Homo sapiens: one gene and its partners. The protein of the gene in region 1 interacts with the protein of each later gene in a pairwise test. Each region holds a gene or a part of one and is shown in the gene's direction. Other genes may lie near its edges. The genes, in order: ANKRD55, BOLA2, PTCHD1, CABP5 and ZSCAN1.

Region 1 (2,596 bases):
GTCTAGGCTGTGTCCCTTCCTAGCGTGTGACTTGAGCACTTTTAGAACTCCTCCAAGTCACAAGGTCCTCATTTGTAAAATGAGGATGATAATAGAATGTATCTCACAAGAAAAAGTGATTGTCAGAGTTAAATAAGATTATGCCTACAGCATTTATCCCTATTCCTGACAAAAGTAAGTGTTCCATAAACATAACTCAAAATTATTATCTCGTTGGTTTTACAAATTTCTGCTCAAGTGTTCATGGATAAATAGTTGTTCGCTAATATAAATTTTCATGTTAATTCTACACAGGAATATTTTCTCTGTAAATAATGGCTCCTGAAGTTATTTGATGTTCAGTGTTCAAAAGGATAAAATATAATGGCAAAATATCCACCAGGGAGACTGGAGATTTAATCTCCATCAACTAACATTGCTGAGGTGGCCGCTTCTGCACAGACCATCCACCATGAGATTCACTTAAACAGATGCAAGTTGTTCTTGGCTAATCCTTTTGTTTTTTCTTTTTTTCTTATGCTATTTTGCTCCAACAGAAGACCCTTAAAGTCTAGGAGCATTGCTATAGCAATTCTGGTTCTTTCTTACTAGACTGATAGGCAAAAGATCAAATAATCTTTTTTTGTTAAGGTCTTTTGAGTACTTTACCCTATAAGCTAAATGCTTTACCCTTGTTCTCCAGTTTAATCCTCATGACAAGTGGAAAAGATATACAATTATTTTCACCATTTTGTATATGAAAAAATTGAGGTGTTGAGAGGTAATATCATTTGCCCAATGTCATATAACTGAAAAGTGGGGAAGCAGGGAATCAAGCCTAATTCTGTTTGACCCCAGAGCCCAACCAAGCTCCTATTCATGACACCATCCAGTCAATTTTAAAATGGATTTAAATCACATTTGTGTGTTCCCTTCTATTTTCAGGTATCGAACATCCGTATCTTAAAGTCAGTAGTACATTGATGAATGTTTAACAGCTAGCTTTCCAGGAGAAAAATCTGTGCTTGCTGATTTTTCACGGTGTAAATACACCCACCATGGCTGATTTCAAGACACTAGTGTGATGTCAAACAGTTCACAAAATTTCTGAAAATGTAACCATCAGCTCTCAAGAGCTGGCTCACATGGTCCATGCACACACCACTGCTTTCTGTCCAAGTTAAAGAATAGGTTTCCTGAGTGCATCTACCCCATTCCGTCTTCCAGGTCAATGATTCTCCATCCTGGCTGCACTTGAATCAGCTGGGAGCTGATAAACAGCTGACACCATGCCCCACCTCCAGAGATTCTGATCTAATAACCTGGGATGTGGCCAGGAAAGCAGTATGTTTTCTAGCTTCTTAGATAATTCCTATGTGCAGCCAGGACTGAGAAACTCTGCTTTAGAAGAAAATACTCTACTCATCACCCACTCATTTCATCAAAGATTTGATGAATATATAAGAGATGCCATATCTATATTATTTCCTTTTTTTTCAACTTTAACTTTTATGGGGTGAGTAACCCAGTGTGTTTCTTTATAAAATTTTATTTAAACTAGTACTCTCAAGAAATGATTTCTAGTACCTTTTTCTATCATTTAAACAGTGACTGGTATATAACAGAAATGCAATAAAGTGTAGCTATCATTGTTTTCATTGTTATTGTTACCACCTTAAATTTAGTGATCTGTAACAACTTTGATGATTCTCTTATCCATTGCATTCTGTAATTTGCACTTGGTTGAGTCTCAAGTAATTGATGCAAATATGTTTATCTTCAGGACAAAATTTTCAGCATCTTTCCCCAAACAGACACAAAATCAGGGATCTTCCTTTCACTCGGAACAACCTAGCTCCCCTACCAGATCAAAAATGTAAGTATTATGAATCTTCCGCAGCTTCCTTTGCAAGTGTTAACATATCTAGACACAACTAAATGTTATTTCCGTTTACTTTCATTTTTCTTTTTTTTTTTTTGAGATGGAGTCTTGCGCTGTCGCCCCGGCTAGAGTGCAATGAACATGATCTCAGCTCACTGCAACCTCCACCTCCCAGGTTCAAGCGATTCCCCTGCCTCAGCCTCCCAAGTAGCTGGGATTACAGGCGCCTGCCACCACGCCTGGCTAATTTTTGTATTTTTTTTAGTAGAGATGGGGTTTTGCCATGTTGGCCAGGCTGGTTTCCAACTCCTGACCTCAAGTGATCCACCCACCTCGGCCTCCCAAAGTGCTAGGATTACAGGCGTGAGCCACCACGCCCAGCCCTACTTTCATTTTTCAAGGGAACATCAGGTGCCAACACTTATAAATTACAGGAAAACAGAGACCATCTTTAAAGCTTTTTTTTAAATGCTTATTTTTTTTAAAAAAATAACACTCCCTCCCTTTAGGAATTTTTGTGTTTGAACTATTGAAACAATAACAAGTTTATTTTTACATGTATTATTTAATGTCTTTAGGAAGGTGCTTTAAAAATTCTCTTTTAAGACTGGCCTCCTGATATCAGTTTCCTTACTATACTGGACAGATAGAAATGTACATCGCCTCTGTACTCACAGTCCATGCATTCCTAAGCAGAAAAAAAAATGCAGTTCATCAGGATTACTTTTGGTATTA
Region 2 (2,518 bases), on another chromosome or scaffold:
CGTGCGCCAGGCGGCGCGAGGCGTGCGGGTGCTGCCAAGCCCACTCAAACTGCGGGCGGCGTACAGGGGCATCAGGGCGGCTCGGAGCGAGGGGCGGAACCCAAGCCCTCACCCGGCCGCCGCTGCCCGGTCTCCTTCCTTACCCGAAGGGCGGCCACGGAGGACGGGAAGCCGTGCACGACGAGCACCATCTCCCTGAGGAGGAGAACCGTGATGTCCCTGTCGCAGCCCAGCGCCTCAGCCGCGGGTCCCCTCCAATCCCACCCGAGAGCGGGGTCCTCATTCCCGGCTTCAGCCGAGAAGTGCAGCCCTCTGCACCTGCCCACCTCAGGCCCTGCCTCCAGCCCAGGTACCCACCTGTCCCACCTCCTCTCTCTCCTGCATTCCACCCGACCCCAGCGTGCCCACCAAGAGCCCTATGCTGGAACCCAGCCTGGATCATCACCCCCGCCCCAGCTAGCTCCTTCCCTGAGTTCCGCCGCGGAGATGCCCCGGGCACCGCCTCCCCGTCACGCTCCTCCCCTGCGACAGGCCCCGTCCCCACCACAGACGCCCCGCCTCTGTCACAGTCCTGGCCGGTCCTTCTCAACAGGCCTGTGCCCCGCGGGGTCCGCCTCCTCTGGGACGCCTTCCTCCCGGCACAGAAGGCCTCCCCCTCTCACCAGGGCCCTCGCCCGCTGGTCCGCCAGGCCCCGCCTTTTTTGCGGCCCCCATTGTGCTGCTGGACCCGACGAGCAGTGTTGACAGTGAACCCCACGTAGACGCGGCCCCGGTACCGGGGGTTCAGGCAGTAGAGCAGGTAGACGCCGAAAAAGCGCCCTGGCCTCGCCGCGACCCCCGCGGGACCCATCGGGCCTTGGGGTTCGGGAACCACAGCAGGGGGTTGATTGCCGTGACCTAGGGTCCAGGGGAGGGCTGGATCGCTAGGGCTGCAGGGTGCTTGCTTCGGAACAAGCTCTCGGGGACTATCCGGAGGCAGCCTGCAGGAAGCCGTAGCGCCGGTACGTGCCCCTCTCCTGTCTGGAGGCGGGTGTAGAAGTCCGACCGCGGAAGCCAGACTGCTGTCCAGTCGGCGAGCGCGTACCATTCAGCATCGGCTCCGCCCGAGTCCCACCTTCCTCAGGCTCTGATTGGCTGACACATGGCAAGCGCGAAAAGCCTGGACCGCTGGAAAGCCCGGCTGCTTGAGGGCGGAAGTACTGCGTTGACGTACGCCTTAGTAAGGGCGGAAGTGAGTTTTCCAGCGGAAGTGGCTCCTGTAAGGCAGCAAGGTAGCGTGGCCGGCGCCCGAGCTGGGGTTGTGTCCCTGCTGGGCTGCCGTTCCAGCTGGACTGCCGCCATGGAACTCAGCGCCGAATACCTCCGCGAGAAGCTGCAGCGGGACCTGGAGGCGGAGCATGTGGTGAGTTGAGCCGCCGGACAAGGGGAAAAGAGCTCGGGGGGCGGGTTCGGCACCATTCATATTCTTCCGCTCGGTAGGAGGTGGAGGACACGACCCTCAACCGTTGCTCCTGTAGCTTCCGAGTCCTGGTGGTGTCGGCCAAGTTCGAGGGGAAACCGCTGCTTCAGAGACACAGGTAAGGCCCTGGGAGCACCTTGCCTAGCTCCTGTACCACAACCCCAGCCACTCCCCCTACCCCTGCAACCTGACTCCCGCACTCCCCCTGGCGTGGCTCAGGGACCTTGAGGATCCCGCCTTCGTGACCCCTGCTTCGAGTATTTCGATGTAGACCCTCTCTCCAAGTACGTGTTCCCACGGCCTGGGGACTACAACCTTGGGGACACCAGTCTCTTGGGTCACCCTAGCCTCGGGGTGTGCGATCACCGCTGGCCTTTTCCTAACCCCATCTCTCGCCCCAGGCTGGTGAACGCGTGCCTAGCAGAAGAGCTCCCGCACATCCATGCCTTTGAACAGAAAACCCTGACCCCAGACCAGTGGGCACGTGAGCGACAGAAATGAGGGACTGGGATCTGCACAGCCATTAAATTATAAATCTGGACCAGCTTCTGTGTCGATGTGTGTGTGGGAGGGGTGCTGAGGCCGAGTCTAGGACCTGGCCTCTCCCTGCCCTGCCTCCGTCCATTGTTTTACCTTGGACACGTCTCTGTCCCCATCTAGGCCTCTATCCCTGCTTGTAAAATGAAAGTTCTACCGTAAAAGTCCCTTCCAGGGTCTACCGAGAAAGCCTTCTCTCTGCAACTCCGTTTAGACATCTAGGAGTCTGTACTGCCACCACCTACCCACCTCCTAGAGAGCTCAGGGTTCCTCCTCTCTGCTAGCCTTCAAGATGCAGAGATGAGAAAGTGATCGGGGTTTCAGGGCCCTGACCAGTTGAACAAACCTCTCCCTGACATTACCGCAGTATCAGAGGCACCATATAGAATTCCACATATTCCTTGCAGGTTCCCCCCGGCCTTCTCAGGCCCAAGAGGGAGTGGTGCCCAGGTAGGGGCTCATCAACTCCTGGAATGCTGATGTTTTCAGACCCACTGGAGAAGGTTCCAGTGGCCCCATAGC
Region 3 (3,521 bases), on another chromosome or scaffold:
CTTAAAAATACGAGAAGGAGAAGTAAGCTAACAGAAGTTATTTGTTTTCTACCTGAGTGTTTCCAGTCCCTTGGCACAAAAGCCAGGGAAATGTGAGATGCTGGTGAGCTGATCAACTTTGACTTTGTGGGATGTGCCATCTGGTACCTGATTTCGGGGCTCAGTGTGAGCCCCAAGTGATACTTGAGATAGGCTTAAAGCAGACCTTTGAAGTCACCTGCTTGATAGCACATCACAGCAAGCAGGCCTGTCTGCAGCACTGCCTGTGTCTCCGCCACATACCCGGAAGGCCACAGAACTACCGAGGAATCCTGCCAGACTGATTTAATGACCAGCAGGGGAGGTGAGTAATCGCTAACCTTTAAAAGACAAGAAAAGGAAAAAAAGAAAATCAACACCAGTTGTTATTTCTTACGGGAAGCCCTGAATAATATGTTGTGCTTGCAACTTCTGAATTCATATTTTGAACAAAAGGAGGCAGTGAGGAACTAGAAAAAGCTATTTTTATCTTCTTGCTCTCTAAGAAATCCTCTTGAGAATATTGTTTCTGCTATTTTGAAAGATCCCCATTGTTAGGTCTTCCACTTTAGGTTTAATTCATAGGCTTCAAGTACAGTTAAGATGATTTATGTAAGTGCAGTCGGTTATCTTGGGAGGTGATATCAGAAAAGGCTGATAGGGGAGTGGGGAAGTAAAACAGTGAGTAGCAGGAAGCCAATCAAGAGAGTATTATTAAGCAAGTGTCTACTGTGGGCAACTGGGGCTCAGTCTCACTAGGGAACTCTGGGAGACACTGTAGAATGTGTTGGAGAAATCTCAGTTGTGGATAAAGAAGCTGAATATTTTCTCCCCAACTCCAGCCATCATCGGCTGATTCAACTACATTTAGAAGCATTAAATTTCTGGCATTTTCATATGCTGTGTTTCTCCCTATATATATATATATATATATATATATATATATATATATATATATTTTTTTTTTTTTTTTTTTTTTAAAAGAATTGGGTACAGAGCTACAGGTGTTTGTGGCAAGCAACCTTAGCATGGAGAGGTGAGTGTGAGCTGAGACTATATGGGTGGGACCCTGAGAGCATCTGCCCTAAGGGTCTTATATTCATCTAGAGTTATACATCGAGAGATTTAGTGCCCCGTTTCTAGGGAATGGATATTCATCCCTTTACTCAACAAGATGGCTATGACCCTGTCTCCATGAAGCTTACAGTTAAGAATCATCCAGCATAGCTATTTAGTTATTCCCAAGTTTGACAAGTGCCAGTGGATGCTGGTAAAGATGACTCCAAACAGGGCCTAGACACCAACAGGATGTGTGGTTTTAGATGCCAGACCTCTACATTTGAGAGGCACATATTCATTCTCACCTTTATGAATACAGAAGTCTGCAGGCCCCCATCTTCACACATCTACTTTTGTTGTTCTCCCTAAAAGTGCCCTCCCTCCTCTCTTTAAGGACCAGTTCACATGCCTTCTACTTTATGAGGCTTTCTCAGATTCATGGCTTCTTCTCTCCCTTAAATCTATTGGGCTTTCATTCTTATACACATTCTTTAATGCAGAGCTGTAGACTCTTATGTAATTTGCTATATTGTCATGTGATCGTTTCTCTTAAGAGAGGTAATGAACTCTTCAGGGGCAGGAACAATGTCTGACACTGCCAGATCTCTCCTAGAGCCTAGCATAATGTGGAGTTTGCAGCAGGTGCTTAATAAATTGTTACTGGTTTATAGCTTGTAAGATGGAAAATGTGCTCTGCCTCCCTATTGATTTATTTTGGTCAAATATAATTTTGCCTGGTAGCATGACCATGTGATTTCTTGTGCTCTATATTCATTTTTCATCTTTGACAAATCTTGGTTTCAAACTTGTTGATAAGCAATAAGCATCCATTCTGTTTCCAGATCTGCTGCCATTTATATGAGGAGAAATTCTTGGAAAACCAAATATCTGACAACCTTCTCTGGTCCAAGTACAGTTTGGGAGGGTATGAACTTGACCTCAGTCCCCAATCAGTGGTGCATTTCCATGTGGGAGGGTGGATCCCTGTGCAGTTCCCAGTGAGCACCCTGGAACCCAAGTCCCCACACTACACATTCCCTTATTTACTTAAAGAAAAGTCTCAAAACATTGGCCACACCCATATTCAAATGTAAATAGGAAACACACTTAAAAGAAAACATCAAGGACAAGTGGTTTTCCTGACCATAGCACCAGTGTTCAGGAGATCACCATTCTGATGTTGCTTAGTCCCACTCTTCTTAAAAGTTAGCCCAGAGGAACAGAAAGTATTGTTCTAAGAGGCAAACTTAAAAGAAAATGATACTGGTACAAAATCAGCATATTTCTGTGAGTTTAATGGAAACACTAAAACTGCTAATTTTTCAGCGTGGAAGATAAAGATTCCTTTACCCATTCCTCCATGAGGCTCTCCTGCTGTCACTAATACCATGGCTTTGTCAATTCTTTCTAATTGTCTCAAGAAAAAATAATGCATCTCTGCTATAGAGCTGTCATTATAAATGCTCAAGAACATTTTGTGATATTTATACCTTAATTGTATGAGGTTTGAGTTGTTGGATTTTGTTTTTGGTCTTGTGGTATAGGCAAGTAGTCCTACTGAGTAAAGATTGTTTGATTGCTCTCAGACTTTCTAACATGCACACACGTCACCTAGGCATCTTGCTAAAATACAGACTGATTCAAAGGGTCTGGGGTGGGAACTGCAAGTCTGCATTTCTAACAAGATCTGAGGTGATGCTGATGCTACAGATCAGCAGAACACACTTGGAGTAGCAAGGCTCAAATTTAACTGTTGTAAACAGAAAACTGGATTTAGAATCAGGAAAGCCAAGTTCAAGTTCCAGTTCTCCTAAGTATGTATCTTTGGGCAAGTCACCTAACCTCCCTGAGAAACACGCTCCTTATTTGCACTGGGTGTAATAGCATCTCTTTCACCCACTTAAGGTAAAGATAGAATGAGATAAAGTATGTGAAGGCACTGTGTAACCATAGCCTTCTGTAAAGTGTGTTATCATTATTACTATTTACTTTGAAAATGACTGCTATTTCCTCACATGTGCCAGCTCTTTCAAAGCCATTATTGCCTGTTGAGTAATACACATGTAGCCACTTTTTTCTTTGATCCAACAGGCAATAATGGGTGCTCAAGCTACATTCAATACTCATATTGCCAATTTGTTGGTCTTTAATGACTCCATCTGAGTCATTACAGACAATTGGATTCAACCTACTGCTGAGCATGCAGCTCCTCTACCTGCAGAAAGTTCTTAGGCAGGCAGAGCTGCGGATGGGGATGGGTGCATTGCATTCCAGCACACCAACGTGGTTCCTCTGGGCTCAGAACCTACTCTTCATGCCTGATGGGGCTTTGCACACAAAAAAAGCCTTCACTTCCTGCCCAGGGAAGTGCCTTTTGAATTAAAGGTTCTGAGAGGCTGCGGGCTCTGGTTTCAGGGCTCTCCTCACCACATCTCACAGCACAG
Region 4 (3,521 bases), on another chromosome or scaffold:
TCTGCCTTGGCTGAGGCAGCCTCCCTAGTAGCTGGGATCAAAGGCATGAGCCACCATGCCCAGCTAATTTTTTTGTATTTAGTAGAGATGGGGTTCTGCCATGTTGGTCAGTCTGGCCTCAAACTCCTCACCTCAGGTGATCCACCCACCTCGACCTCCCAAAGTGCTGGGATTACAGCCATGAGCCACCACATCCGGCCTTGGTTTTTTTGTTTTGTTTTGTTTTGTTTCTAATGTACGCTCCTTTAAGGAGTCTCTAGTTGGAGCCTCATTGATAGCTTCAAGAGATGCCACTCTTCCCCACTGACTGCTTCAAGTTCCCCCAAAGTTCTCTCTTAACTTTCAGAGCTGCGGGAAGCATTTCTTGAGTTCGATAAGGACCGAGATGGGTTCATCTCTTGTAAGGATCTGGGGAATCTCATGAGGACGATGGGTTACATGCCCACGGAGATGGAACTGATTGAGCTCGGCCAGCAAATCCGCATGAACCGTGAGTCCAGGGAATGGGAGGGATGGCCGGGGTTAGGGAAGGGATCAGGGCAGAATTGGGAAGGATGTAGAGGTTAAGAGTAGAGTTGGGGGTGGAGAGGAGGATGAGAGGGACTAGAAGTCTGGAAGAAAACAGGTCAGATTCGACTCAGGAAGGCAGCATTTGAAGTGGTTAAAAGCTTTTAGAGATAGGTCTGGGTTCAAATCTCAGTTCTATTATTTACTAATTACAGTCATTTTGAAAAGTGAAGTTATCCGCTACTCTTCAGTTTCCATTTCCTCATCTATAGAGGAAGATGCCTCTCTCCTTACCTCATGGGACTGTGGAAAGGAAGAGAAGGAAGAGATAAAGATGCTGATGCAGTTAAAGTCTTAGCCTCCAGTAAATTCTTATTAAAGGTAGTTATTACTATCACCACTAAGATTCATCAGTGGAGCACGAGATTGGAGCTGTATTGGATGTTGGAAACAAACTTGGAGCTGGAGCTAATGTTGGTGAATACAGCTGCAAAAAGGATGGATGGATTTTTGGATGGAGATCATAACTGATTTTTAGATTTTAGCTAGAATAAAATTCCTATTGAGGCTGGGCGCAGTGTCTCACACCTGTAACCTGTAATTCCAGCACTCTGGGAGGCTGAGGTGGGCAGATCACCTGAGGTTAGGGGTTTGTGAACAGCATGGGCAACATGGTGACACCCCGTCTCTACTAAAAATACAAAAAATTAGCCAGGCGTGATGGCGTGCACCTGTAATCCCAGCTACTCGGGAGGCTAAGGTACGAGAATCGCTTGAACCCGGGAGGCAGAGGTTGCAGTGAGCCGAGATCGCACCATTGCACTCCAGCCTTGGCAACAGAGTGGGACTCTGTCTCAAAAAAAAAAAAAAAAAAAAAAAAAAAAGCTATTGGGTTTGCTTCTGGGCATGTAACGAACTAAACAAGGTTGAATTCAAGGTAATGATAGTATTCATATCTGAAAAAAAAATTGTATGCTCATTTAATTCATGCTCCTCTTTGTACAGGTCTACAGAGGAGGAGAAACATCTTAACCAACTGTCTGAAAGTCACACAGGCAGTTACTTCCACCATACCACACCCTATCCACTCCTGTTCAGGCTAGAGGGACATGAGTTTGGAGCTTGGAGTTAGCTGCTGGAGGGAGGAAGTCAAAGACGGCTCTTATAGGGCAGGGAGAAGGGAGCTGATCTAACTGACTCGAAGCACAAAGTGAGGTAATGGAAGGCCAGGGCTTGTGGGGTCTCGCTAATCCTGTGCCATCTTCCTCAGTGGGTGGCCGTGTAGACTTTGATGACTTTGTGGAGCTGATGACCCCCAAATTGCTTGCAGAAACAGCTGGGATGATCGGTGTCCAGGAGATGCGGGATGCCTTCAAGGAGGTGAGTTAACAGTGTCATGGTGCTGGTGATGGTAGAGGCAGACCCTCTGAGGTCTGCCTGTAATTAGCCAATGCCATGGACAGCACCCACCAACCAGGCCCCCACCTTTTTTTTTCCAGCCATGGTGGGATCAATAAATAGGGAAGAAAAATAACGTATTCCAAACACCTGCAATGGATCAATGCCTCTGTATACTTTATCTGATTTAATCCTCAAAAAAACAAACAAACAAAAACAAAAACACGCACACAAACACATTAGGAGTAAGCAAGCAGTCATGTATCCCAATTAAACAGATGAGAAAAGTGAGGCTCATGAAGATTATAAATCTTATCCAAGATCCTGCCATCTCTAGAATAAATGTTAGGACTTTTTTTTTTTGAGACGGGGTTTCACTGTTGTCCCCAGGCTGGAGTGCAATGGTGCAATCTCGGCTCACTACAACCTCTGCCTCCCGGGTTCAAGCCAGTCTCCTGTCTCAGCCTCCTAAGTAACTGGGATTACAGGTGCGCGATACCACACCCAGCTAATTTTTGTATTTTTCGTAGAGACGGGGTTTCACCATGTTGACCAGGCTGGTCTCGAACTCCTGACCTCAAGTGATCCACCTGCCTCGGTCTCCCAAAGTGCTGGGATTACAGGCATGAGCCACCGTGCCTGGCCAGGGCCTCTATTCTTAGTGCCTGTAACAGGAAGAATCCAAGAATTTGAGATCCCAGAAGGGAATGCAAAGTGGTCATCTGGTACGAACCACTTGCTGCAGACATACTAAAAAATATCAGACCCAGTGAGAATAACAGACTTGCTTATATCCCCTGATAAAATACCTTCTCGTTCTGAGAGCTTTCAGCAACACAAGGTGAAAATAAAGAGTAGTAGAGTGTTTGGGAGCAAAGGATTTGGAACCAGGCAAACATGGGTTCAAATCCTAGGAGGCCTCCACCTATTGGCTGTGCAAGTGCCTCCCCCAGCTTCTTATAAAGATCTACAGCTGGCCGGGCTCAGTGGCTCACACCCATAATCCCAGCACTTTGGGAGGCCGATGCAGGTGGATCACAAGGTCAGGACTTTAAGACCAGCCTGGCCAAGATGCTGAAACCCCGTCTCTACTAAAAATGCAAAAAAATTTAGCCAGACATGGTGGTGGGCGCCTGTAATCCCAGCTACTTGGGAGGCTGAGGCAGGGAATTGCTTGAACCTGGGAGGCAGAGGTTGCAGTGAGCTGAGATCGCACCATTGCATTCCAGCCTGGGTTATAAGAGTGAAACTCCATCTCAAAACAAAAAGAAAAAGTTGTCTGGATTGAGAAGTGCTGTAAGTGTAACGTGAACACTGTATTAAGACTTAGTATGCTAATATAATTAGCATAACGTACTTGTATACTTAAGTAAACTTCTAGGCTAAGTATCCTAATTAAGCATGCTAAGCACCTACTAAGAACTTAGAACTTACTGCCTTATGAAATCCAGTGTGTATAAAAAGAATGCTACTTACATAGCTAAATTAATAATTTTTAAGTGGATTACATGATGAAAGGATAACACTTTAGATATATTGTGTCAAATAAAAGAGAATATTAAAAATTAGTTTCATTTGTTCCTTTTAACATTTTTTTAAACGTCACTACTAGAAAA
Region 5 (4,256 bases), on another chromosome or scaffold:
ATGTGCTCCCACCCCAGTGTCCAGAACAGTGCCTGGTACACATAGGCCCTCAATAAACAGCTGTCCAGCAGATGCTGGACCCCCTGGAGGTGGGTCCTCCTCTCTTTTCTTAGCTCACACTCTCCTGCTTCTTCTTCAGCAATGAGCAGCTTCAGCTATCCTGAGCTCAGTCCCAGAGCTGAGGACCCTCCTTGCATCATGATCTCACCCCCACCTGATTTCAGATACAAAACGAGTATCTGTGGAACCCTACTATTCTGGCACATGGTTACATTGTAGACATTAATATTAAAACTTATTTATATGAAATGTTCTTATGTAAGGTTTCGTTAAAGTATATGAAATATAGGACACATTGATACTAATTCCTTGTTTTTCTTTTTCTTTCTTTCTTTTTTTTTTTTTTTTTTTTTTTTTGAGACAGAGTCTCACTCTGTTGCCCAGGCAAGGCTGGAGTGCGTTGGCAGGTCTCGGCTCACTGCAACCTCGGCTTCCCCAGTTCCAGCGATTCTCCTACCTCAGCCTCCCGAGTAGCTGGGATTACAGGCACGCACCACCATGCCTGGCTAATTTTTGTATTTTTAGTAGAGACGGGGTTTCACCATGTTGGCCAGGCTGGTCTGAAACACCCGACCTCAGGTGATCCGCCTGCCTCGGCCTCCCGAGTTCTGGGATTACAGGCGTGAGCTATCGCGCCCGGCCTCCTTGTTTTTCTTGAGTTTACATATAACTGAGGTTTCTTTTTTCTTTCTTTTTTTTGGGGGTGGGGGGACGGAGTCTCGCTCTGTCACCCACGCTGGAAAACTGGAGTGCAATGGAGCAATCTCGGCTCACTGCAACCTCCGCCTCCCCGGTTCCAGTGATTCTCCTGTCTCAGCCTCCTGAGAAACTGGGATTACAGGCATGCGCCACCACGCCCAGGTAATTTTTGTATTTTTAGTAGAGACGGGGGTTTCACCATATTGGTCAGGCTGGTCTCGAACTCATGACCTCGTGATCCGCCTGCCTTGGCCTCCCAAAGTGCTGGGATTACAGGCGTGTCACCGCGCCCGGCCGACGTCCTGTATTTTTATTTGCTAAGAGTGGCGATCCTAGTCTGGGACATACTTGTACTAAACATATTTATATTAAAAACAATGTTTTAACATACTACTCTTGGACACTGTATAAAACGGTTGCGTGTCTGGAATGCCGTCGTTTTGCCCCGCGGCCCCATCGTACATGCGCATCCCCGCAGCCGCCACCGTCTCCACTTTCCGCAGCAGCGTCCCTGACGCTGCGCGACCCGTTGCCAAGGCGACTGGAACCGCGGCCCGAGGTAACTGGAGGGCACGGCGGGGGCGGGGCGCTCATCCCAGGCGGCTTCTGATTGGCCTCGGCCGCCTCGTGCGTCACAGCCCCGCCCCTGCCCGGGAGTCCCGCAGCGGTGACTTGTCACCGACGCCCGGCGTGATCCAGCGGACCAATGGCGGCCGCCCGCGGCGCGCAGGGTGCGGGGATGGGGTCCGCCCGCGGCGTTGGGCGCGCTCGCCAGCCCAGGGGTCGCCATGACCGAGTGGCCCAGGCCCGAGCGAAGCCCGCGCGCGGTGAGTCCGCCGCGGCCCATCCGTCCCTCCGCCCGCCAGAGCGTCCATCGGGACGCCCACCCGGGAGGGTCTCGGCGCCGCGTCGGCGGGAGCTGGCCCGGGATCGCGGTCCAGGGGCGCGCGTCGGGGGAGGCGGGCCCGGGCCCGGGAGGGGGCGGGCCGGGCCGGGGTTCCAGAGCCCATCGGGAGTCCTGAGGTCGCCGTAGGGGAGGGAAGGGGAAGGCTAGAGGCCACGCGGGGCGGGGACTGGGGGGGCTGGGGCCGCCCCTTCCGCAGGGACCCCGACCCCTGTTGGCATCCGCCTGTCCGTTTGAGGCCGAAGCCCCTCTACGTACCCCCATTGCCCGCCCAAACACCGCTCGGCCGCGTCCAAGTTCTCCCTTCCACACCTGATCAGCATCCCGGGACCTATCTCCCTCCTGAACAGCCGCCCCCGGACCCATCTCCCTCCCTACCCGGCCCCTTGGGCCCATCCCCCACTGGAACAGCAGCCCCCGACCCGTCTCTCTCCCTACAAGCTCCCCCTCCCCGCCCCAGGCCCATCTCCCTCCTGAACAGCCGCCCCCGACCCATCCCCCACCCAATCACCCCACCATCCTCCCCCCAACCAGCCGTCCACAGCCGTCGTCGCTGCCCCTCCCCTGTATTCCCAGTGCGCTGCCCTTGCACACTTCCCCAGCTCGTTTATTATGGAACTCCTCCGTGTGGCATCCTAAGCTCCCAACGCCCTCCCCACTGTAAGCCCCCTTCTCAAAGCCAGAACCATTCACTGACTGGCGCAGTGAACACGTCTTCTATGTCACTAAGCATCCGGCATCAGCGGCAAAGCCCTTCTGCCCATCCCCGCAATAGAATTTGGGGCTCGGGCTGCAGATCTCAGTGCCCATGCCAGGTGAACCTGGCCCTTCCACAGGCACTGAGCCCTCCAAGTGACACTCTCTCACACACACACATCCCCAACATTAATCAGAGACCCCTACCAAAGTAGACTTCTAGGACCCCAGGGCCACCACAGCATTGCCCATGGGGGGGCCCAGATCCTCCTCACCAGCCATGTAGACCTCAGTCCCCTTCACATCATCCCAGGCCCTCTTCATCTTCCAGAAACAGCCACCCATCAGTCCAGGACTCTCATCAGCTCAGGTACCCCCACATTGGCCTAGGTGTTCCACATCAGCCCCCATATAGACCCCAGACACACCCATGGACCTCTGGTGCCTTCTGCTAAGACCTCCTCTTTACCCTCATCCCTGATAAACTTAGCATCTCCTCCCACAGACCTCAGCCCAGGACCCTGGAGGATGCTGAGGGGCTACAGCCCCCCTCCCTAGAGTCTCCAGGGTGAGCTGCCATGAGCACCTGAGAGAGTATAAGGTCTGAGGCCCCAGGGCAAAGGGATTTCTTGAACCTGTGGAGCTTCAAAATAGGCCCTTTTTTCTTATTCAAAACTACATATATAAAAGTGTGAATACAACATAAGAGAGCATTTTTGCCTGTGGCCTTGGCAGGGAAGACCAAGCTGGTAGTTTCCCAATCAGGGTGCAGGTGGCCGGGTACGCTGACTCGAAGATGGCTGGCTGGGCACAGTCCCCGTGAGTTGCCTTTCTGCCACCCTGCACCTCTCCTTTCTCCTGGATTGTAAAACCAGATGCACGAGAACTGCAGAGTGTATGAAAAATGCAGCAGAGGATGAAGAGGGAAAAATCCCATGGAATCCCTCCTTTTCACTTGTCATAAGCATTTCCCATATGGTCAAAAATCCTTCCTAAAGATGTCTTGTTTTGTTTTGTTTTTCCATGTTGATGAAGGTCACATGGGAGCCCGACACCATTTGGAGGAGATTCAGAGAAGTATGAACAGCACAAAGCACTTGGCCGCCCCCCATGGGCGTCTTCCCAGGACTCCCTTTCTATGACACTCACGCATCATCCTGCATCCCACGTTCCCTGTGCCTCATGTCATCTGTACATCATGTGTCTACTCCCCGTGGTCATGTCATAGTGTTGTGTACTGGGCACGGTTGAATACTCCCATCACATGATGGGGGAGGTAGTTGATCCCACCACGTTCAACTGTTGGGCACTTTTGTAGTGAATCTTGGTGCCTGAATCTCGCATCTTGCACGCAGTCTACCAAGTGTTCTTGATATATAAATGGCCACAGTGCTTTCCAGAAAGGTCGTGCCAATTTATATTCTCACCAGCGGATCAGTCCAGAGTACAATTGTTAAAGACAAACAAACGAAACCTCCCTGCTTATTTTTATTTTTACAACTTTTAATGTTTTCTTCAGTTATATGTTCACCATAGTCGGCTTGGAAAATGTACAAAAGGTAACTTCTTTTTTTTCTTTTCTTTTTTTTTTTTTTTTTTGAGACAGAGTCTTACTCTGTCGCTCAGGCTGGAGTGCAGTGGCACAGTCTCAGCTCACTGCAATCTCCGCCTCCTGGGTTCAAGCATTTCTCCTGTCTCAGCCTCCCGAGTAGCTGGGATTACAGGTGCGTGCCACCACGCCCAACTCATTTTTGGTTATTTATTTTTTTTGGGATGGAATCTCACGCTGTCACTCAGGCTGGAGTACAGTGGTGCGATCTTGGCTTACTGCAACCTCTGTTTCCTGGGTTGGAGCAATTCTCCTGCCTCAGCCTCCCACGTAGCTGGGATTAGAGGT

Evidence for each region.
Region 2: the proteins of ANKRD55 (region 1) and BOLA2 interact in a two-hybrid assay, tested with the Homo sapiens proteins (one large-scale study listed by BioGRID).
Region 3: the proteins of ANKRD55 (region 1) and PTCHD1 interact in a two-hybrid assay, tested with the Homo sapiens proteins (one study listed by BioGRID and IntAct).
Region 4: the proteins of ANKRD55 (region 1) and CABP5 interact in binary tests that used the Homo sapiens proteins (3 or more experiments, as listed by UniProt).
Region 5: the proteins of ANKRD55 (region 1) and ZSCAN1 interact in a two-hybrid assay, tested with the Homo sapiens proteins (one large-scale study listed by BioGRID and IntAct).

What each region holds. Positions count from the first base shown.
Region 1 is NC_000005.10:56,101,753-56,104,348, reverse strand, and holds part of ANKRD55 (ankyrin repeat domain-containing protein 55), read left to right. Parts: intron 1-1,762; coding exon 1,763-1,855; intron 1,856-2,596.
Region 2 is NC_000016.10:29,453,075-29,455,592, reverse strand, and holds BOLA2 (bolA-like protein 2), read left to right. Parts: upstream 1-1,339; coding exon 1,340-1,402; exon of another isoform or gene 1,403-1,479; coding exon 1,480-1,577; intron 1,578-1,860; coding exon 1,861-1,960; 3' UTR 1,961-2,000; downstream 2,001-2,518. Other genes in the region: SLX1B (structure-specific endonuclease subunit SLX1), read right to left, coding at 1-49, 144-195, 663-850; BOLA2-SMG1P6 protein, read left to right, coding at 1,142-1,402, 1,518-1,577. UniProt on the Homo sapiens protein: Acts as a cytosolic iron-sulfur (Fe-S) cluster assembly factor that facilitates [2Fe-2S] cluster insertion into a subset of cytosolic proteins. Acts together with the monothiol glutaredoxin GLRX3.
Region 3 is NC_000023.11:23,341,336-23,344,856, forward strand, and holds part of PTCHD1 (patched domain-containing protein 1), read left to right. Parts: intron 1-3,521. UniProt on the Homo sapiens protein: Required for the development and function of the thalamic reticular nucleus (TRN), a part of the thalamus that is critical for thalamocortical transmission, generation of sleep rhythms, sensorimotor processing and attention. Can bind cholesterol in vitro.
Region 4 is NC_000019.10:48,037,574-48,041,094, reverse strand, and holds part of CABP5 (calcium-binding protein 5), read left to right. Parts: intron 1-346; coding exon 347-490; intron 491-1,777; coding exon 1,778-1,887; intron 1,888-3,521. UniProt on the Homo sapiens protein: Inhibits calcium-dependent inactivation of L-type calcium channel and shifts voltage dependence of activation to more depolarized membrane potentials. Involved in the transmission of light signals.
Region 5 is NC_000019.10:58,032,576-58,036,831, forward strand, and holds the start of ZSCAN1 (zinc finger and SCAN domain-containing protein 1), read left to right. Parts: upstream 1-1,449; 5' UTR 1,450-1,586; intron 1,587-2,167; exon of another isoform or gene 2,168-3,394; 5' UTR 3,395-3,436; exon of another isoform or gene 3,437-3,907; coding exon of another isoform or gene 3,908-3,918; intron 3,919-4,256. UniProt on the Homo sapiens protein: May be involved in transcriptional regulation.